Regions from separate parts of the Homo sapiens genome. Here region 1 is linked to region 2. The links come from fine-mapping of genetic effects on gene expression. A gene starts in region 2. The other region holds a variant in brackets. All regions are shown on one strand. Distances are from middle to middle. Region 1 overlaps NMNAT3 (nicotinamide nucleotide adenylyltransferase 3). Region 2 holds the start of NMNAT3 (nicotinamide nucleotide adenylyltransferase 3).

Region 1 (15,251 bases), 32 kb before region 2:
GAATGCACTCCTAGCCTGTCTTTTTTCCAGTCTCACCTCTGATCCATCCTCTGCGTAGCTGCCCAAGGGATCTGTCAACACACACATCAACATGCTGATTCCCTGCTTAATCCCTTCCCCACCAGTTTCACTCTGGATAATGTTGAAATTCTTCAGGTGTCATCCAGAGCCCCTAATCTGGTCATGACCTTTTCTCCCAAGCCTTGCTACTTACCCTCCAACCCCCTCCCTATGGCTGCTCTGTCAAACTGCCTTTCATCCTGTCCTGAGTGCTCACTCACTCTCACCTATTTATGCCAGGCTAATAGCTACATCATTTAGACTTTTACCTCCTCTACAAAGCTGTCAATGCCTATTCCTTCCAAGCTAAGTTGGGTCTTCTCCTCTGCCTTCCACATCCCCTTAGAACTTTCTCTCTTACATCTCATCCCATTCTACCTTACTCTCTATTCATCACCTATCCATCTGACTGGAGAGTGAGCTTCTTGAGGGCAAAGAATGTGTTTTATTTTTGTATCCTACACTCCAAGCATAGGGTCTTGCTCAGAGTAGGTGTAAAACGTGTGTGGAATAATCAAATTGAATGTATGGATGAGGTCAAAACAAAGACAACGTTGGGAGGCAGTTCTCCATGGGTTGCTTATGTTTCTGCATGTCTTTCAAGTAAGGCATTGGCTGCTGATTGTTCTGGACTTTCTTTCACAGATATTTGAATAGCTAACAGCAGCCTTGGAAGACTGATATTGTCTCCTGCTGGGACAAAGGCAGGCAGAGTTACTGTCCAGTATAATGAAGATGATGTCCTTCTTTGGAGCAAAAGACAGGCATGTTTATTGTCCCTGATAAAATATCTGGGTTCCTGAAGCCCAGGGATCTTCTCCCATAACACAATCCACTGCAAGTATGGGTATCATGTGGCCATCTTCACATCCTCCTGTGGGAATTGTAGCTCAGAAAATGGCACAAGAAAATGCTGACATCTGGCTACTGCTGTTGCCATGAGTAATAAAGTCTTTTGTCTCCGAGGGAGAAGTCTCATGTCTTCTGCCAGCATCCATGAAACTGTGGCAGGTTAACTTGTTAGCTTGCAAGTAGGGTAAAATTTCAGACCCTTTATGGTTCTTTACAGACAGCAGAGTCAATTCTGGAGTTCCCCTAGTGAACCAGGAAATACCACAGAGGGACAGACAATTGAGAAGAGAAAGATGCTGAGGAGATACTAGAGGTCATGAGGCCCTGACCACACTCCTTCCATATATAATACAATTTATTTCCATCAGAAAGAAACTCAGATAAAAGTGACTGTCTACATGGCCACAGTCCAGCTGTCTTCACATGGAAACAGAATCAGAAGAACCCCTTCCCAGTGAGGTGGGACAGTGCATGGTGGGACTCTGTAGTCCCATGCACCAGCAGGACAGGTTTTCTGAAACTGTGCATGCATAAGGGTCCTAGGAACATGCTAGTAGAAATGGTACCATGACCATCAGTATGGGTGGTGGATTCCAGTCAACAGAAGGAGGTCACACAGAAGGGGCTAGTGTCCCAGTGTCTGCCCTGTGCCTGAGTGGGCAAAAGCAGCCTGATTGGGGGAAAACTCAGGAGATCAGCCAGGCTGCTTTCTGGTTTTAAGAAATGAAGATTCTGGTAAAGGAGAAAGAAAAATTGCTGAGGAATATAGGGTGACAGTTGTCTCCCCTATGCTACTCAGCCTTGTCCTTAAGTTCTCACATCCTCTTAGGACCAGCCCTAAAATGTAATCTAAAAATCCTAATAAAAAAGGCCACTTTGTTTTAGCTTGTTTGTTCATTCATTCACTCAAAAAGAAAACAAGCTGCCATTACTACCAACTTCCTCAAGGTAATAGGATGACAATAGGATCCTGAAATATCTGGGAAGGGTGGAAACTTGGCCAGGCTCTCCATGAAGGCTGAACAGGCCAGTGGATGCTCTATGAATCACAGTTGGGAGGTGCAGGCAAGAGACATGATGCCCAAGAAGAGCTGTTCACCTGATACTTTCACTGGGTACAACATAACCAAGTCCAGAGCCATTCTCTCCAATTTCGTGTAATATAACTTCCTCCTAGAAATTATAAGCCAAGCAGCCCAGCTTCTCTTCTTTACTGAGCTATGAGCAGACTGCCATGGTGATAAGCAGATAACTGCAAATCTAGGCAGGGATCTATGAAGTCAGAGCAGGCCTGAGTCAGATTTGAGGCTGTGATTAATTAAAAATTTTAACTGAGTTCATCCAACATATATTTAATGGTATGCATAATCGCTATTGTGTTGGCTAGAAATTAGGCCAGAACGGTAGGCAGTTCATAAGTAACAACTGTAGTCTCTATGATTCTTAAGCTGACAAACTGTCTTGTTTCTTCCTGCACTTATTGCTTCAGAATCCACAACTACAACTGGCAGAACATGTCCTGTCCATGTTCCCACCAAAGCCTATGCATAGGTTAACAAGTGTCAAGAAGCTTGACACATTTGCCAGCAAGTTATACACAAACCTCCAGCTAACCCCATACCAGGCTCCCTCCCACAAAATGAGGACTTGTTGATTTTCCTTACTGTGTGTGAATTTAAAAATCAGCAAAAGCTTAATTTGCTTCTGTGATTTCCAAAGAACTAACGTATTGATCTGCTATGCTACGTCTTAGCTGATGGCTCTTTTTCTAGGCCATTGTGATACATGTTGATCTACGAGTGTGCATGCCACAAGCACAGCATTTTCTATAGTTGGAACAGAGAGGCTGTCCAGAGGATAGGAAAGCAAGGGCCTGGCCCCAGGGGACCAGTCATATCCCTGGGCCTCAAGGTCAACAGGCAGAGCTAGAATATAGTTAGGCCAGAGGAACTAAAGAACACTCCATTCTCAGAGGTTGGGATAAAGCCCAAGGAGGACATATGAAGGTAACAACCCCAAAATTAAGGCAGTGAAGCTTCAGCCCACAGACATCCAACTCATGAGAATTCACCTGTATGTGCTGGACTCAATAAATAAAATAATAATTTACATATAAAATAAAATGTAGGCTGACATGAAATGATTTACGCTGTCTTCCATGAGCAGATGTTCCAGAGCAAGTGTGATATAGCCCAGGAGAATCTGCTGGTCCTTCTTGCAGCACAGCAATTCCCTTTTCTTCTGGCTAACAAACACCAATTTTATTTTGCTTCAGGGGATAAGAGGCATGAGAACCATAGCACCACACCTACCATGGAAGTCTCAAGCTCTTTGCTAGTGATTGGTTAGGCATGGGCATGTGATCTAGTTCTGGCCAATGAGATGCAAAAGAAAGTACCTGGAGATCAGGAAATATTCTCCCAGATGATGAAAGAGCACTGATGAGAAAGCCCCTTTTCTGTCTCTTCTTTCCCTCCCTCCCCTGGACACTGTGGTGTAGGGATATGATGCTTGGGGCTGCTACAGCCCTCCTAGGACTACAAAGGGAAGGCCTAGAGAACTATATTAACCTTGTGCAGTATTACTTTTCTCCAGACTTATTATTATATAAACTGCTAAAATATCTTTATTGCTAAAGCGCCTGCTGATCAGGTGTTCAGTGGCGTGTGGCCCAAAGCATCCAAAGAGATATACCTCAAGAGGCCTCAGTTCTTGCCTTTCTCTAATGGTGTGTACACTTTCATGGGCCAAATGTGATCCTAGTGTGCAAAGATAAGTATCTTCTGCATAATGTGGTCTCTAAAATCAAGGAAGCAACTTCATGTGGGTTGCAGTTGAAGAGAGACTGCACCTGTGCCTGAGGAGGCCTTGGTGTATGGGGCCTAGGAAAGGATGATATGTTGAGCCCCACTGTGGCGCTGCCCTGGGAACTTTTCAGAAACACTTTTGAATGAACATTATTTTTGGTTGGCACTGTGACCTGAGAACTTAACCTCAGGGTAAGCTGCCTCCAGAACCTCTTAACAGACCCCTCTGGACTGCATCCAGTGTCCCATGGGCACCATGGGGACATTGATGAGGGCAGCCCTGCATCTGGTAGAATGGTCTCCACATTCTTGATGGCTCCACAGTGGGGCTTCCTTCATTGTGGTGTCCTGACTCCCCCTCTTCAGAGGGTGAGGAAGCCCTGCTTTTCCTGCATTAGTGCTGGCTGCTTCCCTCCTGTAATTTATGGTCTGACACAGCCTGGTGACTTAAAAAACCTGAATGTACCCTGCACTCTGACACCTCCATGCCTTTGATCCTGCTGGGCCCTCTGCCTAGAATGTCCTTTCCATCCATTTCTGTCTATTAAATTTTGCCCCCCAACACTCAGCCTATATAAGGCTGTCCATAAAAGGTCTTCTTTACTCAACAACAAAAACAAACAACCCAATTAAAAAGTGGGCAAAGGACTTGAGTAGACATTTCTTTAAAGAAAACATATGAATGGCCAAGAAGCACATGAAAAGATTCTCAACATCCCTAATAACTAGGGAAATAAATTCAAAACCACAATGAGAAACCACGTCCTGTTAGAATGACTGTTAACTGAAAAATAGAAAATACCAAGTGTTGCAAGAATGTGGAGAAATGGGAACCCCCGTGCATTGTTGGTGGGAATGTAAAATGCTGCAGCTGCTATAGAAAACAGTATGGAGGTTCCTTAAAAGATTAAAATAGAATTGCCATATGATCCAGGAATTCCACTTCTAAGTATATACTCAAAAGAATTAAAAACAGTGATACAAACAGATATTTGTACACCCATATTCACAGCAGCATTATTCACAGTAGCCAGAAGGTGGAAGGAAACCAAGTGTCCATTAACGGAAGAATGGATCAACAAAATGAATGGAAAAACAAAATATACGTTGCATGTATATAATAAAATATTATTTAGCCTTACAAGGAAGGCAATTCTGACATATGCTACCATATAGATGAATCTTAAGGACATCATGCTAAGTAAAAATAAGCCAGTCACAAAAGAACAACTATTGAATAATTCCACTTACATGAGGTACCTACAACAGTTAAATTAATAAGATAAAGTAGAATGGCGGTGCCGGGGGTGGGAGGAGAGGGGGAAGGAACACTTATTGTTTAATAGGTATAGACTTTTAGTTTTGCGAGGTAAGTTCTGAAGATTGCTTGCACAACAACATCAATGCATTTATTACACACTTAAAAATGGTGAAGATGGTAAATTTTATATTATGTGTATTTTATCACAATTAAACATTTAAAATTAAAGGTCTCCTTGTTAAGCCTTCTCTGATGCCAGGCTTCAATGCCATTGCATTGCTTGTCAACCTCTGCCTTGATTCCTTGTTTTCTGTTCTATCAGGATTGTCTTGAGATTTACCCAGTTGCCTATACCAAGAGAATCACACATAAATAGTACCAGAGATCTGATAGAACTATATTCCTAACATCAATCCCATCTCATCCCATCTAGGGCATTTCAATTATGTAAGCCAACAAATACCCTTTTTATCATTAAGTCAATTTTAGTTGGTGTGACAGCTGCAACCAACATCAACCTAATTGATAACACATTTGGCCTGAAATAAAAGAACACTAACAATAAGGAAAAGACCTCTGAGATTTCTAGGGAATAGGAAAAAATTCACAAAAGAATGCAAATAAGACTGGCATGCATCTGACCTCTTATTTGCAACACTGCATGCAAAAATACAATGAACAATACCAGCATACTGAGAGAAAACAACTTTAAATCTAGACCATCATTTAAGTACAGGAATAGAATAAATACACTTTAAAATATGAAAGGACCCAAAGTTTACCACTCAGTCACTCTAAGAAGTTCTTTGAGGATGTGTTCCAGCAAAACAAGGAAGAAAAACAACCTAAGTAGAGGTAATTTAACCCTGGAGAAAGGTGAACCTAGAATGATAGTTGTATAGGCTGAGGAGTAAGAGCTGAGGGCAGAGTGTGAAAATGTGGAGCTCTAAGAAAAAAGGACCATAAATAACATGGTCCAAAAATAATGTAAATTAAAATGGGACATAATTTTAACTCCTTGATGGAATATGAGAAAAAAGTTAATTTGACTCCCATATTAGGAATTTCTCTTTGAGTGATCCAGGGACACTTGACCCAGGAGTGAACACATACGTGGTCATAATAATGTAAATCCTATTTAATGGTGTTCAACTTTTAGAGTCAATCTAGTGAAAAGACACAGAAGGCTTGTAATCACAGAATAGAAAGGTAATGTTATCAACATTGGCAATGTAAGAATACAGCTCGCGGCCGGGAGTGGTGGCTCACACCTGTAATCCCAGTACTTTGGGAGGCCGAGGTGGATGGATCATGAGGTCAGGAGTTCGAGACTAGCCTGAACAAAATGGTGAGACCTCATCTCTACTAAAAATACTAAAATTAGCTGGGTGTGGTGGCACACGCCTGTAATCCCAGCTACTCAGGAGGCTGAGGCAGGAGAATCGCTTGAACCTGGGAGGCAGAGTTTGCAGTGAGCTGAGATCATGCCACTGCACTCCAGCCTGGGTGACAGAGTGAGACTCCATCTCAAAAAAGAAAAAAAGAAAAATACAGCTACCAGAAGCAGTAGTTGGAGAATGATGGGAAGGACAGCAAAAGCACCAATAGTTTCCTCTCACCTCGTGGAGAGTCTAGATACTGATTAAAGTTGATGAATGAGAGGCACAGATTTGTTGTGAATAACAAATGTGGGGGAAAATAATGCCTTAGACAAAACAGGGCCTAAACTTGTCTCTCATAAAATGAAGATGAGGAAGATAGGCAGTTTAGGGTTAGGGCAGCAGCTCTGATGTCACCAATTTGCCAGGATCCCTCTAGATTTTTTTCTCTGTTATTCTTAGAACATGACTTCCAGCTACCCTCAAGATTATCTCATGGTCGCATGACCGCTGTTGCAGCTCCAGCCATCATACCTGTGCTCCAGGTAAGAAGAAGAAAGAGAGGAGAAGGGTAAAGGGAACCTACCTGCTGAGTCAGTCCCCTTTATAAGGAGTTTTCCTACCCAACAATTTCTGCTTACATCTCACTGGCCAGAACACTGTAACAAGGCAAACTATCACAAGGAAAACTGAGGAGTATAGTTTTTTTTGATGGCACATTGTTGCTCTCAACAAAATTGGGTTTGTTTTAATAAGGAAGAAGGGAGAAACAGATATTGGATAGGCAAACTGGCCATTTGTGACTCAAGCGATAAAAATGTATTATTCAAGTAAAAATGTATCCAATTAAAGAATAAACATTGTAATAGAATCATCAAAAGTGAGAGGAAAGAGGAAGGGTAGGGTGCAGAGAATATAAATGAGTTAAATCTTTATTTTTTCATAATGGGACTCAGTGGCATACAATTTAAAGTTGCTTTTAACTTCCAAAATAAAGACTCAAAAGGCTAAAGCAACTTGCCTTTGGGATGTAGGTGGGGTGGGGGCAGTAGGGACAGAGCTGCAACTTTTCATTGAATGCTCTTCTATACTACTTGAGTTTTAAAAAACCATGTGCAGATTTGGTTGTGATTTAAAAGTATCAGTGTTTAGTGTTATGTTGAGAAGCCAAGCACCACTATGTTTCCTTTACAATCTGGTTCTGTGGTGGACATTTTGGTATGTTTTTAAACCACCATCACTGGCTTAGAAAGTGACAAAACTTAGCCATGGTCTGGGATTTATTTTACTTCTTTCAATTGATTTGTTATCTTTTAAACTTTAGCCATTCACATTCAATAGTTTTTTATAAGACAGTCTGTGGCAGATGCATTCCCCCTGTTTCAGGTGGGGCAGTCCACGTAGGCCCCATCCTCTGTCTGAAATGAGGCAACCAACATCTCCCCACAATCATTCCCCTGAGCCACTCCCATTTGCCCACAGACCTCTCTGCAGGGAAGTATGTTCTCTACCTGCCTGGTCTGCACTCTCAAATCACTGTCCTAATGTCTCTATAATATATTAACAGGCAATGGCCAAAGGGAGTTCTGCTGAAATAGGCAGCAGTTTGGGCCATTTTGGACTAAATCCTAGAATGCACATGATAATGCTGAGCGATGCAGTTTAATTTATGAGCATGCAGGCCTGCTATGAAATTGGGAAATGGAGGTATTAGACATTAGCATTCACATGGCAAGGGGAGGGCCAAGTCCAAAACCGTAATAGGCTTTTTGCAGGGAGGACTGAAGAGTTTGAAGCAGGAGACATAATGTCAGTTAAATGTACGCTCACGAACCTTATCCTTGTATTTGAATGCTGCTAAATGCCTAAGCAGTGTGCACTTCTCCTGGCCTTATGCCCTTAATATTGCCTAGCACAATTCTTTATTTTGAACAGGAGTGGAACACCTGTATGCACATCTGGGAAGATTTAAAAAATGTATGGCATGGGTTTGGTTTGATCTGCAGGAAAGAAGGTATAATAGATAGCTTCTCAATTTCCTTCTAGCTAGGGCATATAAACTTTCATACAGCTAAATATTTCCAAATTGAAAAATGAAGATGGGCACGTTTGTAATTTCACTCATTACAGTTGTGCATGCAATTCATGCCACACAGTCTCCAATTTAAGAAGCTTGTAAGCCAGAGATTTTCTGTCTGACCTTGACTCTGGCACTTCACCTTTCTAGCTAAGTTTTCAATGTACAGAGCAAAATAACATCTATTTCTGCCTCCCTTATGAATAAAAATACATTCTCCCAAATGGTTCAAAGGAAATATCAAATGTGCCCCAGCAGTAAAATATATTGGAAAGGAGGTCAACAACTCCATCAAACTAGGTTGAATAATGTCCCCCAAAGATGTCAGGTCCTAATCCCTAGAACCTGTAAATGTTACTTTACTTGGAAAAAGGGTCATTGCAGATGTGATTAAGAATCTTGAGAAGAGGGAGTGCTAAATGCAATCACATGTATCCTTATAAAAGGGAGGTAAGGGGAGTTTTGACACACAGAGAGGCCATTTGAAGATGGAAGAGGGAAATTTGAAGATGCTGGCCTTGAAGTTTGGAGGGGTGCAGTGACAAGACAAGGAATGCTGGCAGCCACCAGAACCTGGACTCAGCAAGGAACAAATTTCTCCCTTGAGCCTCTGAACTGAATGCAGCCCTGCTGATGCCTTGGTTTTGGCTCAGGGATACTGATTTCGAACTTTTGGCCTCCAAAATTGTGAGAAAATAAATTTCCTTTGTTTTAAACTACCAAGTTTATGGTAATTTGTTACAGCAGCCACAGAAAACTAATACACTCACAGACACGTTGGAAGGAAGAGTTTCAGTTTGTACAAAAGCTATCCCCCAGATTCTATGGTTCTTTGATGATATTTGGCTGAATTCAACTTCCTGCCTGCAGCAAGTGGAATAGGAGAGGGTTGAATGCAAGTGTAGTGATATGGTTTGGCTGTGGTCCCCACCCACATCTTATCTTGAATTGTAATCACCACATGTTGAGGGAGGGATCTGGTGGGAGGTGAGTGGATCCTGGGGGGGTTTTCCCTACGTTGTCCTTGTGATAGTGGGAGAGTTCTCACAAGATCTGATCATTTAAAAGTGGCTGTTTCCTCTGTGTTCTCTCTCACCTGCTGCCATGTAAGACGTGCCTTGCTTCCCCTTTGCCTTCTGCCATGATTGTAAGTT[T/C]CCTGAGGCCTCCTCAGCCATGTGGAGCTGTGAGTCAATTAAACCCCTTTTCTTTATAAATTACCCAGTCTCAGGTATTCTTTATAGCAGTGTGAAAATGGACTGATATATGTAGGTTAAGAAAAGCAGGCAGCCAACTCCCAGTTCTGGGCAGCGTCCCCTCCTGAAGCAGGAGGCTGAAGGCATGAGAAAAAAATGCTTAGTTCTTAAAGCAAACATGTGAACAGATTAAGTATGAAGGGGCAGGTAATTAGAGGGGAACCAAGGATTTAAGAAACTTTCTATAAATTAACCTCATAGTTTCGATAGGGATGTGTAGGCATGTACATGTGTTGGAGAAACATATCTTCAAACAAATAGTTTAATTATTAATAAACATGGCCAGATACCTGCAAACATATGTCATCAGACTGTCCTCTGAAGGTTTATCTGCAATAGTGAAAAATTAGAGACCCCACTGTCTACCAACAAGGGAATGGTTACATTCCATGTAATACTATGCAGCTATTAAAAAGAGTGACGTACTTCTACATATACCGATGTGGGAGATTATTGAGTAAATACTGGTAAAAAAATGTAAGTTGCAGACAATATTATAGTATTTTCTCACATGGTTTAAACAAAGCAATCTGTGTTATAATATACAGAAACTATATATATGTACACCTAGATATGTTTATGAATTTGTTGGATGGGTACACATCAAATAAGAAGTCATTACTTTCAAAGGAAGGAGTAGGGTTGTTGAGGGGGTGGTAAGAAGAGTGGACAGACTTGGGCTTTATTAGTATTACTTTATACTAATGCACTTTTTCCCTAAGCATGTATTCTTTTTTGTAATTTTAGGAATCAAAAAAGATGAAAATGCAATAAAGATACACTATGAGAACCTTGTTTTGAATGATGTCTGGCAAACAGTGGCGACCCTCAGTAATTGTGTGCTCAGTGAAGGGCTATGCAGGAGATGGTCTTTAAAGATTGCCTGTGGTTTCTGGAAGTTTCCTGTAACCCAGCTAATGTTGCAGGATGGCAAGCAAAGAAAACAAACAAACAAACAAACAAACAAAAAAACTGGCTTTTACACCAAACTCCCTGGTGGTCTTCCATGTTTTTATTTAAAAAAAGAAAAAAAAGACACACAGTAAGTAGCCAAAGTCTGAGGCAAGTGCGTCTTTTGTCTCTTCTACAAGAGTGGGGCAAAGTCACCATTCATTGACTCAGTTTCACACAAAAGCCAAGGGAATCTGTCTTTTGAACACTTTCCTTCTGAAAAATTCTATATGATGATGCTTCCAAAGGTTGTTTTACCTCCTGGAAGGGCAGCTTCTCCCCAGTGAGCAGTCAGTTCCTGCACGGTTAGCTATTGTACGCAGCCCTCCTAGTGTTTGTGAGTTGCACACCAGGGAGGGGGGCACTATACCTTTGAAAAGGACACCCCTAGCCTCACTCCTCTGAGTGCACCCCAAAACACACCCAAACCACGCTTCATCACATACAAAAGGAGAACTCTTTGATCAAAAGGGTCCCACCTTACTTGCCAATTTGAAACACTGTTTTGGATTAATGCAGTCAGGCTGACAAACTGCACACCCCAAAGGCATTAATACAGCTAGGAGAAACATGCATTGACTTCACAACATTCAATTTAGGGGCCATGAAGAGATGAATGGGAGTGTGTCTCAAGACCCCAAAGCAAAGATGTGATTTCTGGACAACAAGAAACCAGGAGCCCACTTGCCTTTTGGATAAACAAAAGCAAGGGCATGGGGTAACTTCCATCTCAAACACAGACTGCATAGGGGCAGTGCTTTACAGGTGACAGGTCTCTACAAATACTTCTTAAGCGATGGCTCTTACTGCAATTACTGCTTTTTGCTGAATGAAAGGAACCAATCCCTCTCTCTTCTCCATATAATATGAAATGTTTATTTTTTCAAGACATATTTCTCCAAGATTGGCCACAAATCATAAAAAGTGTTGACATTTTATGACTCCTTATTACAAATTTCAGGAAAGATTTTCATCTTCTGCATTTTAAAGATACTGTTACAAAAATACATAGATTGGGAGTTGGATTTTTCCTTAGGCAGAGGGAATGCTCTATCTGGAAGGCTTATGCTTAACCAAAATATTTAACTTTGTTGGTTTTGTGCTCCCATTTGCAGAATGTTAACATGTGGTCTAAACCCCCTGTGTTATAATTGAAGAAACTCACTTGTAGTTGAGTACTGGAGAGGTGATGTTGCTTATCCAAGGTTATACAGTAAGTTAATAACAGAGCTAGAGTCAGAGCTCTGGACTCAGGGCTGAGATTTCTATCACACTGTGACAGTGCTTTATAAACCAAGCTCTTTGGCTGTGGAGACTTTTAGGTTTTACCTGAGGAATGCATCCTGACATATAACCCTCATCCCTCGGCCTAATGAGATTGACACTCTGGGACAAATGTGGAAGATGCAGGAGATCCCTTCTGTGAAAGCGATAAATTCAGAGAAATCTAAAGCTGAAAAGGACCTGGAGCAATTCTCTACTCCATTTCCCTTCCTCGAGGCAGAAGTTGCTGACATCATGCCAAGGGAGAAGTATTTATCTTTCTAAAACTCTTCAGGGAAGATTCATAACTTCTCTTACAAAAAGGAATATCTGATTTTCTCTGAACAGTAGGATCCAAGAAGTAATCAAAGAAAACCACCACATCATTTATAAAATAAAAAATATAAAATCTTCCTTACTTTGATACCTCAGAAGTGATTATTTAAAATAACTTTCTAATTTAACCCAATATGAACATTTCTATTGTAAAAGGAAAATGTGTTGGAAAATAAGAAGAGCATGGAGTTGGCATGACATGTTAACCATAATTTTTGTAAGAATTGGTAAGAAGTAAGAGACCCACTCAGGCCTGTTTGTGTGAAGAACTTTGGTAGAAAGTATAATATATAAATACCCGCACAGCATAAAAACTCATGGATTAGAGACTAAATAATGGCTTCCATTATATGATTTTCATTTTAAGTTTCCCAAGTCTCCATTTTTTTTTGCAAAGTAGTTTCTGTATTAGGCCTTAGCTCAAGAAGGTACATTTCTAACTAATCTGAATGGAAAAATAACAGACTAAAAACTCCACCAATGATTCCATATATATTCATGCCAAATGATTCAAAAGCTAGAGGTTATTCTGAGAGGGGAAGGCTGCCTAACATCTGTGATACTAAGAGAAGAGAAGCTATGCTTTATCTGCAGACAATACTGCTGACCCACTGCCAATGACTTTGAACTGCCTCTCCATCAGACATGATGAGATTCCAGAATCCTGAAAACCAAAGGGTGTATCTCAAAGGTAGCTGCTGGAATTAAGGTGGCCCACATCTGTGGTACAGCTCAGGCTGTGTGCAGAGCTGGCAGGTCTGAGGGCAGAGCGAATCCCTAGACTCCTGGTCTCAGGGTCCCAGGCTCCGGGCAAGGGTGCAAAATGGCCTCCTTAATTACTTCCCCTACCCTATCCCACCCCCTTAATGGCCTATTAAAGCTTCTCCCAGCCATAACTCAGTGCTCCTGCTCCAACCATTTCCTGCCTTCTCTGCTATTCCAAAGTCAGTGTTCCTCTGAATGCTCCATGCTCCCTGCCCTGGAGGAGGGAAACTGACAGCCTGGGGACCTAAGTCCTCCCTTCCTCACTGAGCAGCATATCTGGAGCCCACTCCTTGATCTGTGTCCAGCCCTCACTGTTCCACCCAGCTTCAGGCCTGCCAGAGAAAATTCTAGGCCCTTGTCTAGAGGCCCCCAAAGCCTAGGCTGGAGGTGATGCTGGGAGGAAGCCATGCCTGGGGAAGACCATCGTGCCCTGAGTCCTACCCTCAGCCAGCCAGTGCCCAGGCCTGGCATGGCATTCCAGAAGATTCACAGCTTCACTGCCCTGCAGCAGCCCGGGGCTGTAATGTCCCCTTACATTTTGTGGGTACCCAGATGATCAACATCACTGTGTGTAAGGGGACTCAGAAGTGAGGTTAAATGGCTCCGGGTGAACAATCCAAGGAAAGATAAAGAATAAGCATTTGCACTGACTAATATTTCCAACCATTTAAGGGGCACACATATTTCAATTAGATGCTATTACTCCACCTTTGCAGATGAGGAAACTGGGACTTAGAGAACTGAACTTGTTTGCCCAAGATTGCACAGCAAGGAGGAGTGAGCTGAGATGAGATTCGACCCCACCCTGCCAGGTGTTCCAGGTGTCTCTGCTGAGCTGTGTAGCATGGCCCCTCAGGACCTGGGTATGAGCAAGAGCAGCCTATGGGGGGCAACAGCACTTCTCAGTGGGCCCAAGAGAGGCCCTTGTGAGGACTTTACTACATTGACTCCCTGGTTCCCAACAGCAATGTTTTTAAGTGAAATTGCAAAATTTTCAAAACCAAATTACATCCACTTTAATTTTGAAAGCAAAAGCAAACAGATGTCCTGCAGCCTCTTCCCCTGGGAGAGGGTATTGAGATCCAATAAACCACGCATCTTCTCTTCCTCGAGAGAAGCTGGGAATCACCACAGAACCAAATGCAGCTCTGCCTCTGTGAGAGCAAACAGTTTTGGCTGTACTTCTAGAAGTCCAGAAGCAAAAGTGACCAGAGAAAAGCAGGTATGCGCCTCACCAGTGAGAGGCACATTCACCTAAGAGAGGATTAAAAAGATTCAAAGTACAAAATGGGTTTCATGATAAGTATTTTACTCTCATTTTATTGAAATAATGGAGTTAAAATGTTAAAGGAAAGGATAGATTGGCAGCGGGGGCAGGGGTGTTGGTGGTGCCATAAGTTGCAGTTTATGGAGTCATTGCTTCATAAATGTCACTGTATTGGTGTTATTCTATCATTTTCTGTGCCTACTCCATTTTATAAAATTACTTATGTTTGGATTAAATGGCTCCTAAGAGGTCATCCTGTAAATAACATGGGACTAAGGTGTGTGTGTGTTTCTTAATTCAAATGCAAAATATCTTACACCTCTCAATGTGCCATGGAATAATGCAAAAGGTGATATTGTTAAAACCCCCATAATTTAAAAAAAAACTGTTCTATTTAAAAATAATGGAAATCAGGAGTTATAAAATGCTTATGTGAGTTGAAGCCATTATTTTCTGAGCAATCAAACAGATCATTTATCAGCAAAACCTACTCTTTCCTTTTATACTCATAGCTCATTAGTTTATATAATATTTAATAAAGTTATTTGACTATATTAGCAAATACAGCCAGCACTGACACTTTTGGAAACAAACAGCTGACTGCTAAGTGTAGTAGCCACGTGTTGGGGTCAGGAGGATGCCCGAGAGGGCTCAGTTTGTTGCCTTCAAGGTCTCTGTGCCTAGCTCTGTCCCAGCTGGGGCATAAGCCAGGTTTACGAAATTCTGGCTGAATGGATAAATGAGCTTCCCCACAGCCCCACCCTATTCCAGCCCCAGAAACTCCTCAAGCAAACCGTAGCTGCCTAGACTTTCTTCCCCTACTTCCATTCACTCACTGCTTGAGTCACAGTCAGCAACACGTTGTAACTCGAACCTGGGGCGTGGCAGCATTTCAGAGCAAGGTAGAAGGGACCAGAGACATTTTCTAGTTTAGCCTCATCATTCCGTAGATCAGCAGGTTGGAGACAAGCTATGAGATC
Region 2 (15,251 bases):
GAACACATCTGCAGGCCATTCAGCCAGGAACCCAGAGTGTATCTCTGGACTGGAAACATGGAAACAGGGAGCCAAACCTGGCTTTAACATTCTTTTTGATTGGATGATTTAATTCAGGATGAGGCCACAAAGGTAGTGGCCTAAAATTACAAACTGAAGAAAGATCATTGTTTAATTTGGCTGATTTTAAGATTTTAAAATAGTTATAGGAATAATAAAATAATATAGAAAGCTTGATATATGAAAAAGGTTATCCATAATTCCCTTTTTCATATGTAACTCTTGTCCCCTTAGAGGGTTCCCTTGAAGACTGTTTTCCTAAATATGTCTGTAATGTAACCGCATTCTGTTCCCAGAGCATGTTAAGGTTTCCCATGTGGCTAATCTTCATATTTCTAAGTACTACATAATACTCCATCAGCCTGTCGTTCTGTAATTTGTTCTCCTCCTATACTGTATATTCAGATCACTTCCAAGTTTTCACCATGGCAAATAATGGTGCAGAGAGCATTTTTATACAGTGGCTCTTTCTAATTTTCAGATTATTTTCTTAAAGCAGAATTTCAGAAGAAGCCAAAAGGTAGCAGCATTTCAGTGACACCTGAAACAGGCAGCTCCTATACTTTTATCATCGACGGTCCTTTGATTACTTACAAAACACAACATGAGTAACAGACAGTGGTATCCTTTCTCTCTCTCTCTCACACACACACACACACAAACATTAAGACAAGAATGATCAACGGCACCATATAAGTTACATAGAAGAAGGCCAGATGGGGAAATTAAAAGCAAAGCAGTCTTTGTTACTAAGTATAAGGTTTGTGCAATAAACCTATTACTGATCTTTAAAATGAAGATTTGAAAGTGAGTAATAATTCCAAGTTAGACTCCTACACACTAATTCATGTAACAGGCATTCTGTTCTAATGATCACTGGCTCACAGAGAAACTTCCAGCCTTCTAAAGGTTTCTCTTGACCTGACCTGGTGTGATTCCCTCATTGACACTGACACTCATTCACTTCCACCTGCCACTTATTGAGCCCAAATTCGGGTTGGTTTGCATCACATGTTTTCATCATTCTTTTCCTTTATGGTTGTAAACCTTTCAGCGAGCAGCCTGGCTGATATCAGGGCTGCTGATGGCAGTGGTTAGGATGCAATTAGGCTGAGCCATGCTTGTCAGCCTTGCTCCGTACTCTCCTCTTTCCAGAACACTGTGACAAGGGGGAAGGACCAGAATCAAGGCTCTAACCCCTACACACCTGCCTTTAATATGCTAACTCTGCTTCTGTAAGGCAGTTCCAACCTCATCCCCGGGCTCTGTCCTGCCTTGACACTTCATTTTTATAAGAGAAAGCAAAGAAAGGGGGGCGTACTGATGGAAGGGGGAAGGCAGGAAGAAGATTGGCTCTAATTTAAAACCATCTTAGGAGCTCTAAAAAGTTCCAGGTTGACTGATGGACACATTTACTCCTCAAAACCCTTTTCATAAATATCCACCACTTAACATGTACTTTCAAGAGGCATAAATACTGTCAGCGTGTCAGCCTTTATGAAAGGGAGATTTCCAGAACCACTTCTTTTCTCCATGGCTAAGAGCCACACAATTACAATCCTATTATAGCTGTACCTTGAGAATATAGCCCTTCCCCACCAGTCTGTGCAAGGCAGGCAAACTCACCCGACTAAGAGTAGCATGGGGGCCTTTTCAATCTCTGTGCAGTGATGCATCCTTCCTTTGCTGCAGAGAAGACGGCAGCTCATCTCTGGTGATAAGGTCTACATCTGAGACTGGTAGGGATTGGAGATGTATTTTGTCAACAGCTCTGGCCAAAGTAACTCTCTAATAATATTCAAGTATGGACAGAGAATGTTTCCTGAGGCTGTTTGGATCACATCTTATTTTGAACAGGTCTTTAGTGTGACTTTCTCCCTGTTCTCAGTGGAAATGAATGGGTTTCGAAGGCAGGCATGGTGCCCCTCTGGAGAACTGCTGGTTCCTCACGAAGGACTGTGCTGGCATGGCATGGCTCTGCATGGGTAGGATCACTGCCAGCTCACCCTGCCACAGCTGCACACAGATTGGTGGGCCCAGCTTTCCGGACAACAGCAGTCAGCAGTGCCCTTCTTTCCTCTCAGACAGCAGACCACTAGCCACAACATGATAAAATCTATGCTGGAGACTCAGCCTGGTGTGCCCAGGAGTATCAGAGAAGGAGGAAACAAATAGGCTCTCAGGTGGACTCTGTCACTCAGAAGGGAAAAGGCTCCAGTGCCCACGCCACTAGATTTACCCTCAGGTGAGCTGGATCCCTGTTTGCTGCTGCTACCCAAGATGAGATGTATGACGCTGAGAACTGGAGCACCCAACCAGACAACATCCGAGGAGGAGCTCTGGAAACTATAAAGGGGTAAGTGAATTGGATCACAGCATTATTCTCCCATTTGGAAGCTGAAGCACAGTTGTTTTTAAAAGTGTACATTCTCAATAGGATGACCTTGGCAGCATACACCACTGCTTACCAGGATTTATAGAAAAATATCATCCAGCGGTCTTCAAGGGTGTATATGAAAAAAGGAACATAAGCCTCCCTCCAACACTTTTGGCCCCTCTGTCTATAGTGATACTGACTATATTTCTCTATCTTTCTCCCTTCCACATGCGGCCCTGACACCAGCCTCCTCCTTCAGGAGAGTTAAGCCAGTTTAAAATGTGTTGCTATGTGTGTATGTGCTTAATTCTATTGTTAAATCTGTCTCATGATGTGTGCAGACTCCATGAGGGTCAGGACTATGTCATTTTGACTCACTGTTTGAATCCCCAGGACACTGCCTGAAGTATGTGTAGAAGAAAGAAAGGGAGGAAGGAATAGAGAGAGAGAGAGAGAAACAACGTGCCAGGCATGGTGCTAAGTACAGGGAACACTTGGTCCAAAGCTGTGGAAGTGCTCACAGCCAAGCAGAGGAGGTAATTCAGCGTGGCCAGAGAAGGGCATGCCGACAGGCACCCGCTGGTACTATGGGAAGGCTGAGGAGGGATTCAGGAAGGCTTCCCTGCAACAGAGTGTGCCTCTGCCGCTGCCCCAGGGATTCTGGATTTAGGGGCAGCTCTGGCCAGAGGCAGGGACAGCAGAGAGGCACAGGGATGAAGACCAGGATTTCACTGGGCAGGAAGGCAGCCCAGACACAGCACTTCTGGGTGGAAAGAGCAGACAGTGCTGACTTCCAGATGCATGGTCACCCTCATCCCAGGCACTTCCACCCAAAACCTATTACAGAGAATCTTAGATTTCCCTGGAGCTGATTTCTCAGATTCTCTCTAGCAATAGATTGCCTTTCTATTCCTAATTCCTAGAGTGGCACATGGGTCTATGTGTATGTGGGAGACACAATGATGAAGGAATCATGAGTCCACTGTGGTTTGTTAAATACCATCATGCAGAACTGCACAGCTAAACCAATGGGGCAGGAGCTGCCATCCTGAGGCCTGCCCCGCAAAATGGGATCTGTCCATCTTTACTGGGGAACCATGATAAACGAGCAAAGACAGACACTGGTGAGGACGAGCCACTTTATTTAAGAGCTTTGACAGCTCAAAGTGGTTTAACATAGATGTATGGAAGATTTATCGAGATGATAAAATACCTGAACTTGAAAGGCACACAAATTATAATTTTGCAGGTTTTTTTCTTTTTAAAATTTCACTTAGTCAAGTGCTTTAAGTAACGAATGAAATGCACATAAAGTTGATTTCATTTCACACAAGCTGTCTGGTTAGTGTCTGCAGAGTGCCTTTGCTTCCAGATGGGACTCAGTTCAGAATCCATGCCACCCTTCTGTGCCTAGGGCCTTCAGTTTCCTTACCACTGTGGAGATCATTGGGAAGATTAATAAATATAATAATAAGGCAGCCATTATTGACCGGGCACTTACCATACTGCATGTTGTATACTGAGGTCAGTGCTTCATATGCTTATCTTGCTTAATGCTCCTAACAGCCCTATGAATTAGCTACAGTGATTCTCATTTTACAGATGCAAAAACAGGTTTAGAGCACTTTGGTGATACATGGGAAAGTCACACGAGCAATTTTATCTGACTACAAGACTATGGTGTTCACCACTAAGCTGCGACATACATGAAAATATTTGGCCCTCAGCAAATGCTTAAATACATTAGTCATCTTTCCTTACCTTCGTATTCCTTTTAAACATACACACACACACACACACACACACACACGTGCACATATACCATGAAAAATCTGCCTCTTGGGTTTATGTTCATTTATTTGTTCATTACTGATTCATGCCTTTTTGGCCTGGTACTCTGCTGGGTGAGAAGTTTGCAAAATTAGACTCCATAGCTCCCAGGTCAAAGAGCCAGAACGGTCTCAGGCAGTTACCATGCTCAAAGGGATGGCAAGGGTCTGCAAGGTGCAGTGGCAGCCCCCTGCAGGGAACCCCCACTCAGCCATCAGTTAGAGACACATCATCAAAAAGACCATTTTAGACCCTTTTCAACCCTAGTTTTCTCCAACTTTTGCTACGCTTTCTTTGGCCTGAGTCTACAAAGACACTGGGGCTTTCTGGGGCTTTCTGACAGTGCAGCTGCCCAGGAGGCCCTTTATCATGCAGAACACCCCTCTCTGCTGCCAGGCTCTTGCTTTATGGCAAAACCACTGCAACAGATAATCTAACCCCCTGACTAATCACCCTGCACAATTCCTCATACTGCCTCCACTCCTATCCCTCTCCCGCCTCTGCCCTGTCTTGTTTCATCAATTTTTGTCCAGACTAAGGAACGATATCAATAGTTATAGTAGTAGTATCCTCCCACATGTCAGGTACTGCTCTATGTATTTTAGGTCCTCATTAAATCCCCATAATAACCTTCTGAGGTAGACACTACAACTATGTATATTTTAGTTCATTCAGGAGAAGGAGAGGGTGGGAGTTAATATTTCTTCAGGGCCAACGATATGCTAAGCACCTGTTAAGCCTGAGCAATCCTCACGACTCACAAGGTGAGTGAGCTGCCCAGGGTCAGTCACAGAGCTGAGAAGTGCCAGGTCTGTGACCACCAAGCCTGGAGCTTCCCTTCTCATGGGCTGGCATCCTGCAGTGGTCTGAGAGGGGAAAAGAGAGGCTGCACAATGGCTGCTCTCTCTCCTCTTCCCTCCAACACCCTCTGTTAACATCATACCTGTTCTTTTTTACCACTCCCCACAAATGGTGCCAGACTCCTGCCTCATCTGGGTTCCCCTACTCTCTGGGCCTCTCAGTTGGTTTTCATGGAGCACTTTCTTTGTCTACAACAATGTTGTGAACAGAGCCAAATAAGAAATTGGGATCATTTGAGCCAATAAAATACAGTGAGCAGCTGACAGATGTTTCCTGAAACCTAAAATGCTCTCCCAAATCCATGGGGTCTCAAGGTCTGACACGTCCTTAGCAAGGTCCCAGCATAGTTGCTGCTTCTGGGAAGTCTTCTGTCCAGTTTTAAGAGGTGACACCAAAAGCTGAGAACCACCAATGAAATTCAAGAAGTAACTGATGCTCAGTGGAGCTGTGTGAACCATACCTTCAGGGGCTCCTGGGTGGCTTTCTGAGAAAAACAGAGAAGCTTTCCCCTGCAAGGCCAGTGGGTAAGAACCCTTTCTCTGGGTTGTGCCAGGGTGGAACTGTCACTTTATTTCACCTGGCCCACCGGACATGGGCTCCAGGAGGGCAGGGCCCCTGTCTGATTTCTCTCTGAATCCTCAGAGCCAGGGTAAAGTGGGCGCCAGTTAAATGTTTCAAGAATGAACAACTAAACCAGTCATCATTTTAGAGAACAGGCTGTTTGAGAGATTCTACTCAGAACCACTTATTTGATAGAGGAAGAAACAGGACTCAAGGAGAGGGGAAGTGACTTTGCTGAGAGGCAGGCACACTGTGTTTAGTCCAGAACAACATCAAGCCTTGGATGTTTAGTGCAGAGTAACATCCAGCACCCATCACGCAGTGCTAAGTCATTTACATTCACCATTTCCATTCTCAATGGGTAGAACAATCCCATTTTACAGAGGAGAACGTTAAGGTTAAGGAACTTGCTTTCCCCCCAGCTCTCTGCAGGCCAGCCCCACCAACCCTCCTTTCCTCAAGCCACATTCTCTCCCAACAAAATGAGTTTGCTCTGTTGTTCCCCGCCCGGGAATTCTCTAAAGTTTTAGTTCCAGCAGCCTTTGTAGCTGGGGGCCCTGATAAAATCTCTCCAGCACCCTAGAATTTCAATCTTCATAGCTCTGACCACAGTTTTAACGTTCACACTTGTTTGCATAGATATCCATTTGCTGTCGGTCTCCCCCCACTGGACTGTGAGCTGCACGGGGGAGGGCACCACATTTTTTGGCCTGCTACTGTAACCCCAGCACTTAGCCCAGCAGCGGACACTGAGTGGAACACGTTAAGTATTTGTTAGACACTGTGCTTATATTTTTAACCTTTGAGTGCACGAGTGCTAAAGGTGGGATCCGAACCCACGTCTCCGGGACTCTGGTCATAGCCAAAGGGGAGCTGGGGGTTAGGTTGACACGCTGCAGCGAGAACCGCCGGCGCGCAGAGGCAGCGCGGAGCTGTCCCCCCGGTTCGCGCCACCCCGGATGGCTCCGCACTCCGCCGCCACCTGTCGCCCCAGCGGGGACTCCCAGGACTCAGTTAGGGGCCAGGAGTCACGTGGGCCCGGGCATTCAGCCGCGATCCAGGTCCTAGTGGGCTGACGAGGGGCCCACGCTGCGCTTACCTGCTATTTGCAGGGCTCAGCAACGGCGCTCGGCGAGTCTCGGGGGACTGCGGGGGACTAGGGGACCTGCTGGGCCTAGCAGGGGCTGTCGGTCAGCGCGCGGCCCGGCGCCCGAGGTCCGAGAGGGAAACGACGTTTGGTCTCGGGACTCAAGGCTGCCTCCGGCCCGGGCAGCCTCAGGTCTAGATCCCCTAGTACCTGAGCTGGAGGCGGGGCCAAGGCGAACTTGACCTTGCGCTCCCTTAGCGGCCCCGGGCAGATGGAGTCTGAGGGAAACAGATCTGCGCCCCGCCCCTTCGCTGGGGCGGGCCCTAAGGAGACCCGGCCCTGGCCCCGCCCAGGGTCCTAAGCCCCGCCCTCTCCCCTGCCCCCGCCCCCGCCCGCTGGCTCCCAACCGCCAAGGCTCTTTTGTGTTGCGTGCGTGTTTGCTTTTTTATTCTCCTGTTTTGTATTCTGTTTGTTTTGTATTTTTATTTAATTTTCTTTTAAAAAAATACATGAAAGTAACGCCCACTTACTTATTAGAAAATAAAATTATCTAGATTTGCTTATAATGAAAGCAACAGGCCACTTCTCCCTCCCATCACAGCTCTTTTTAACAATTCCTCCGTTAATTTCTTCTAGTGGTCACCCGCTTGTCGCAAAAAAAAAATAAATAAATAAAATAAAAAAATAAAAAAAGAAACTTACATAGCGATTTCTTGATTTATCCATTGACTTTCTGCCATGTTATATGAGGATCTACTCTCTTACTGCGCGGCCCCTGTTTCCTTCTGACAAATTTACACCTCTATTCTCAAGCCCTGCCCTGGTAAACGCCAGACCTCAAAGCAGGGAAGGATTTCTGGGGCCTGAAGCATACACAGTTGTGTGGGGAGAAGGAAGGGAGGGCTGCTTAAGAAAGAGAAGACAGAATTAGGGCTTGCCAGTGAACATTTATTTGGAATGAGAAAATAAATCTTAACAGAATCCTGGGGTCTTAGAGATTGGGGTCCCTATCCCCTAAAACCTTCTTAGGAAATTTAGGTCCCAAATTTGCTTCCCTAACGCAGTCTGGCTTCCTCTGCCCACCCAGAACTCTCCATAAGCCCCCAGGGCTCATGGGAGCCTTGCAGAGAGAGGCCTTGAAGGACAAGATTCACTAGATTCTGCCAATACAGTTTCCTAATGGAGTGAATTGGAGTGTGCGAAAAAGAGAGACATCAAGGATGATGTCAAGGTTTTTTGATTGCTGTACACTTAATTTCCAGCGTTTCCTAGACACAGGAACACAACCTCATCTTAGTATGGAGAGTGTTTTATAAGCCTGTCCACATCACCAGAGCCTCACGGTGCACCCATGAAGTTGGCTGGACGGGTGCACTGTCCACAGTTTTAGGAGGCCCATAAATTTGTCCCTTGTGTATTAGCACCGGGGGCATGCAACTTGCACCCAATAAGTACCCAGGTAAATGGTACTTCCCCACTCAGTCTGAAGACACAGTGTCCGTGCCCTCTCGGATCCCTTTTCTCTTACCTGTGGTGTAAAATGTGGCTCCAGAAGGTGATCTTGGACAAGTCTCTTTACTTCCCAAGCCTCACTTTCCTTTCGTATAATGGGAGGTAACAACCCCTACCGCACTGAGTTTTGGGGAGGATTAAGTGGCTTAACATCTTTGGATATTCTTTAATTGATAAGTCAGCTTATTTCCCAGCAGGGTGGGAGGCTCATGAGAAAGCTTAGGGATTTCTGAGAATCTTGTGTAGCATGTAGTACCACAGGTTGATTAGAGGCCTTCGATTAAAATCGTGGGCTGAAGAGTCATTCTGGGTCAGGGCCCTAGGCCAGGGAGGGAGAAGCTGCACACAGAGAGCAGAGAAGAGGCTGGGCAATGACTTCCTCATGCAAGGGAAGCTTTCTCTGCCTGAGGTAGTGAAGACTAAAGCTTGGTCTAGGAGGAAGCCTGGTTTCCTAGGCAAGAAAAAAGGAATGAATTAATGGCATTCACAGCAACTGGATGAGATTGGAGAGTGTTATTCTAAGTGAAGTAACTCGGGAATGGAAAACCAAACATGGTATATTCTCATAAGTGGGAGCTATGCTATGAGGATGCAAAGACATAAGAATGACACAGTGGACTTTGGGGACTCAGAGGGGAAGAATGGGAAGGGAGTGAGAGATAAAAGACTACAAATTGGGTTCAGTGTATACTGCTCGGGTGATGGGTATACCAAAATCTTACAAATCTCCTCTAAGGAACTTACTCATGTAACCAAATACCACCAGTTCCCTAATAACCTATGGAAATAAAAATATTTTTTTAAAAAAGTAGCGTCCCCTTGTGCTGGAAGGTAAGAACCTCATATAATAGCCAAGCTTTACCTAACCTAAGCGGTGAAGACGCAATGGCTGAGAAATCCATTTTGGAGAGGCAACTACCTCCTAATTTTTTAGAAGGAGGAATACCTAAATGCAAGTCTTGTATTTGCTTAAGCTCACAAAAAGACTACTGGATTATGGGTATAATGGGAATAATATTTTCAGATCTCTCCTTTATTGGTAAGTTTCATTTCTCCTGGATCCTATCTGCCATTATGGCTCAAGGAAGGTGGCCACCTAATGCCACCTCAGGAAGGAGGAAGATTTTACATAGAGGATGTCTCAGCTTGAGTGCCTCAGAACCAGATCCTGAGGTAAGAATTAATGCAAGTAGTTATTTGAGAGGTACATGGAACACCAGCAGAGTAATGAAGAAGCAATACAGGGAAGAAAAGGGGAGCTCAATAAAAGATTAAGCCAGCTACTATAATAGATGTTTAGGGCTTAATCCTAGGGGAAAACCCTAGAAAACTGTGTGAAGAGCATGCCTTGGAATCATCCCACCCAAGGCTGCAGGAGACAGGTCTCTACAGGGAAAAAAGCTGGAACTGACCACTTAGCTCATATTTTTGAACATTTAAAACATTATTTCTAGGCATAAAAATGTCATTACTAAAATGAGATCTGGCTACAGTATAACACTATTCTGCAGTTTCCTTCTATCACTTAACAGTGTGCTGATGAAGTTTCAGGAGGAACTCTTTGGGCAGTAAGCAATGTGCAGATGGCTGAGAGTCACAGTCCTGGGATGGACCTGAGGCCATTCTGGAAAGCTTGCTTGTGGATGGATTGTGATGAGGCCGTAGACTGGGGCAGCCTCTGTATTTGGATGAACCTATTCTAACCTTGACTTCTGACCTGTCGCTGAGGAAAAGCAAGCTTTGAGTGGGTAAAAGTAAAATGTAAAAGGGAGACTGGTGGACTTTTCAAATGACCAAAGAGGGCAAACTTTTCAGTCACTGCAACTACTTCAGCAGATGGGCATTTTCTTTTCTTTTCTTTGAGATGAAATTTCACTTTTGTAGCCCAGGCTGGAGGGCAGTGGCGTGCAACCTCCGCCTCCCAGGTTCAAGTGATTTTCCTGCCTCAGCTTCCCAAGTAGCTGGGATTACAAGCGCTCGCCACCACGCCCAGCTAATGTTTGTATTTTTAGAAGAGACAAGGTTTCACCATGTTGGCCAGGCTGGTCCTGACCTCAGGTGATCCACCCGCCTTGGCCTCCTAAAGTGCTGGGATTACAGGCATGAGCCACCGTGCCCGGCCAGGTGTTTTCTTACAAACAGTGAACAGATAGTGCTCATGCCAGATCTTTCTTATACAAGCATCAAAGCAGGTCCTCACTAGAAAACCTTCACTTTGTCAATTTGGCTTCATGGCTATACTTACTATTGAGCTAAAATTATCCTTTTAAAACGTGAATCAGTTTATAACACTCCTCTGCTCAAAAGTTTCCAGTGGCTTCCACCACAATTAGGGTAAAATCTCAAGTCCTCCCCCTGGTGTGCAAGGCCCTCAAGGATCTGCCCTGACAAGTGCTCCAGCTGTCAGCCATTCTCATCTCTGGTTTCCTTGACTCTGTTGCTGTTCCTTGGACACACTGGGCCTATTTGCACCTAGAACCATGGTGCTGCTGTCCTCATTGACCTAAATAACACACCGCCCACTCTTAGGATAACTTTCCCAATTCATTAGCTTTCTAGTAGACAGCTCCACTTAACAAACAAAAATACTCCCATACAACCCCTTTTGTAGTACTTACTACCTATCATTGGAGGATATTTTGCTCATTATCTGTCTCCCTCGCAGAAGTGTAGGGCCCAAGAGTGGCTGAATCTTTATACATTTTGTTCCCTGATATGTCCTCACACCCACAACAGTGCCTAGCACCTGATATTCAATAAATATCTGTTGAATGAATGAATGCATTGAATTGAGCAAATGAAAAATATATTCAGTACACATACAGATAAAAATATTCTAGAATGCAGACTTTCAACTAATCTTGGTTAGGTTCCTCTCAAACTGAAAAAAATTGTTAGAACACAGAAAAATAAAATGAAATGGCTGAGCTGTATTATGTAATCTGATTTATAATTACAGGTTGAGTATTAGACTGAGAACTTTTGCTTTTTTATATTTCACCCAATGTCTATGTTAAATGTTTAAGCAAAGGTTAGCTTGAGAGGCTACATACTCATTTAAAAGTAGTAAAAAGAAACAAGGTTCTCCTAGTCACTTTAATAATTCAGAATAGTATTCTGTGGCTTCTGTTGGCATTTGAGACCCCAAGATGGCAACTGGTTACCTGAAAATAAAGGCCTTGATCAAATATTTAACATCTCACTTATTTTCATTTTCTGCATATTTTGTATTCCTGATTCTCACTTTTTTTTTACCCATTCTGCAGTCACACAATTCACACACTGAAGTTAATAGAAATGTTCCATGGATTATTAAATGCAGCTAAGCAATGAGTTTTTGCTAGAAAATAAGGCCAAACTGGGGCCACTTTGCTATTCTAACAAAGTAATTTTTCCTTGAAGGTACAGACTATGAATTTACAGAAGCCTCTACCCTTTATTCTGAAGTTTTGTAAGGCAAATACATTGCTGCAGGAGAGAATTTAAAGTGGAAAACAGATTCCCCCTGAAAACATGTTTTATGGTGGCACAATTAAGAAGTCTTATAATCAAGAACAGTTGAAAGCACAGAATTATAAGTGGACCTTTATAATTATGGCAAGAAGACACTAAATAGTGCCTGTTTGCTAATGAAAACATTGCACTCTGGTGCCAAAAGCAGTGGAGTGGGTTTTGGTTGGTGCTTACCTGGGTTAATTGCCCAAGGAGTGCTCCAGTAGCAGCATCCCAGTGCTGTCAGCTGCCGTTCCTAATGGAGCTTTTATATTTTACCCCTATTGCTAAAACCCTAATCCAGGCTTTGATGTCCATTTGGGCCTACTTGGTACAAAGAGGGCCTTCTGGAGGTGGTCAAAGTCATAATGGAAAAGCCTTTAGGAATAACCCATCCTTTTGTGATCAGTAGAGAGTACCCAGAGAGGTTAGAGGATTTTCTCGAGATCACGCCTGACCAGTGGTGGGTTTGGAGTATTAGTCAGGACTTTTTTGTTAGAAGCAATTGAAACAGTCTCTGTGACCCAGTAGATGGGAGTTTATTGGCAGGATTGGGCCTTCAGAACTTACAGAAAGTTTGGAGATCCAGGCTTAGAAACGGATAGGGAGAAAGTAGCTCTGAAAAGCTAGAAAGTGAAAACCCTGGGAATAATCTCTTAGTAGAAATGGTCTGGTCAGGAAGCTGCTGCAGAGATAGATGATTAAACTCTAGACACTTTCTATGCCCTTGTTTCACTTGCACACTAGCCAAAGTCTTGGGAGAGGCCCTCAGATTGGCCAACATTAGTATACACTCTCCTATTTGTCCTGGGAAAGGTGTTGGCAAACTCCTTCAACTGCAGAAGTTGAAAGGAAAGCATCTGAATTTACTCTCCTACTAAGACTCTCATAGTGGAGAGGGGCAATTTCCCAAACGGAAACCCAAAGAATGCTGTTAGGAGGAAGGCAGGGATGCAGAGAAGCTAGAGTACAATGAAGCCCCAATTCAGTTTAGAGCGGTAGACTCCTGTGCAGCTAGAGATGGCCACAAGAAGCAAACAGGAGTCCACCTGGGATTAGTAGGAAGATTTTGCTTTGCAAGCTTTCTGTCCCTCTCCTCCTTTTTCCTTTTGGCTTAGAATGTGGGTATAAGCCCAGAGGCCAAGGAGCCATTATGAATCTTAGAAGTGAACTCCAAGCGTGAACTCCAAAGCCACCTACTAAAGATGGCTGAATGAATGAATAGGAGTCTGACATGTTAAATACACCGTGGAGCTGCTGTACCAGCTCTGAACTGCCTACTTCCAGCCTTCTTATTTTATAAGAAAATTAAAAAACCTATCTGGCCACACCACTGTAGTTATCAGTAACTTTCAGTCTAGCACAGTCTGATAATACAAATTAGTCCTAGGATTCTGGTCTCTCAATCTCCTATGCAGCACCATTCCTGTTCTGCTTACAAAGACATGGTTCCTGCCTTCAAGGAGCTTATGGTTGAATTGAGGTTATATTAGTCTGGGTTCTTCAGGGAAACAGAACCAATAGGATGGATAGATAGATAGATGATAGATAGATAGATAGATAGACGAGGACATTTATTAAGGGAATTAGCTCACATAATTATGGAGGCTAAGAAATCCCACATCTGCCATCTGCAAGCTGGAGAGCCAGGAAAGCCCATGGTGTAATTCAGTCTGAGTCCAAAGACCTGAAAACCAGGGCAGCTGATGGTGTAACTTCAGGTTTGAAGCTGAAGGCCTGAAAACTGGGGCAGGCAGGAGAGATGCTAGTGTAAGTTTCTAAAGGTCCAAGAATCAGAAACTCTGATGTCTGAGGGCAGGAGAAGATGGATGTCCCAGCTCAAGAAGAGAGATAATTTGCCCTTCCTCTGGATTTTTGGTCTGTTCCAGCCCTCAGTAGATTAGAGGATACTCACCCACATTCACGAGGGTGATTTCTTTACTCAGTCTACTGATTCAAATGATAGTCTTTTCCAGAAACACCCTCACATATGCACCCAGAAATAATGTTTTACCAGCTATCTGGGCATCCCTTAGCCCAGTCAAGTTGACACATAAAATTAATCATCATAGAGATTAAAATCATACTCAAGCAACAAGAGAGCAAGAAAGTGTGAGGTATAATATATTCTGAACTGCAAGGAGCACACTACATCAAAGACAGAGTGCAAAGGAGGTCCTTGCCTAGGCCCTAATCGCTTCCTCTGGCCTCTGTGATTTGTCTGTTATTGCCATTCTCTTCTGTATCTTTACGTTCTCCTCTTCTGTGCTCTCTTCTCTTAGCTTATACGAGGGCCAAGTCTCCCCTATCCTCAAAGACTCTTCCCTTTATCTAATGACATCTCTAACAACAAATCTCTTGCCTTCTCTTCTTATTCAGTTCTCTCAAAGGAATGGTCTTCCCGCACTTTCCCTCGTCTTTAATCTTCAACCCAGAGCATCTAGCTTCTGTTTTTACCTCCACACTGAAACCACTTTTTCTGATTGCTAATTCCTATAGGTAAATATTTGTCCTCATTTTACTGGACCTGTTGGTCACATTGGATGATATTGGCTATTGCCTTCATAGAAACCTCTCCTCCCTTATCTCTGTGACCTCACATTCTCCTGGTTCTCTTCTTACCTCTTGGATTGTGCATACTTTCTTGTCAGGACTGTTAATCAAAACATCAGACCCTGCCAAGCTAGTGGGAGAACACTGTATCTCTCCTTAGAAATTGAATCATGAACAAATAAACTCTGACACTAAAAATCGTGGTGTTCATCCATTTTCACAGTGGTGCCCTGGTGGAATTGTTGAAAAAGAGCTCCTGCCACACAGGGCACCAGAGCTTCCAGGCTTCTCTCTGCTCCCCTGCCTGGTTCTTCAGCTCCCCAGTGGCCTTCCTGCAAATCTTCTTTTCTTTTACATTAGCCAGAGTCAGTTTCTGTTGCTATGTCCAAAGAAGTCTTCGTGATACCTTGATGCATGCTCAGCTTTCTAAATACACATGTACTGAGCAGGCTGTGAGTCCTGGTTTGTAACTGTGTACCCCGGGAGCTTGCCCATCAAAGCTCACATCAAATATCACCTGCTCCTCCTTACAGCCTTCCCTACTCTATGTTCCTGTGGCAAAACCATGTTGATCTTTACTGCCTCAGCAAGGCCCTGATCTGCAATGGTCCTCTATGGTCTCACTGGCCCTTTCATATTTGTCTCTAATGCTCACAGCCAGAATTGTGTGGCCACATTCAGTCTGCCCAGCTGGTCTAGTAGGGCCACAGGGCCATATCCTGATCTTTCCTACTAACCTAGTGTCTCTTAACTGGTGCTGTCCTGCCTCAGATGGTAACTTTACAAAGAGAGGACAGGACTTCTTAGGCAAAGTTAGATCCCGTAACTTTGATCTGCCTTCGGAGAAGGAGCTGGCAAGAAACATTACCCATTCTCAAACTTCAGAGCTCCTGGCATGAGAGGAGCCCATTCCTTCTT

The links. PIP is the estimated chance that this variant, and not a neighbour inherited with it, causes the effect.
Region 1: its variant is fine-mapped to the expression of NMNAT3 in sun-exposed skin (GTEx, PIP above 0.99). The same link has a PIP of 0.9 or more in unexposed skin.

What each region holds. Positions count from the first base shown.
Region 1 is chr3:139,638,693-139,653,943 of GRCh38, forward strand. The region is part of intron 1 of NMNAT3 (nicotinamide nucleotide adenylyltransferase 3); the gene reads right to left. Among named protein-coding and RNA genes, the nearest start is that of NMNAT3, 32 kb to the right of the region's middle. The variant T/C (reference allele first, on the strand shown) is at 9,591.
Region 2 is chr3:139,670,917-139,686,167 of GRCh38, forward strand. It overlaps NMNAT3 (nicotinamide nucleotide adenylyltransferase 3), which reads right to left and starts at 7,056. Exons shown (of 7, transcript NM_001401600.1): 1 at 6,789-7,056. RefSeq lists a silencer at 7,110-7,159.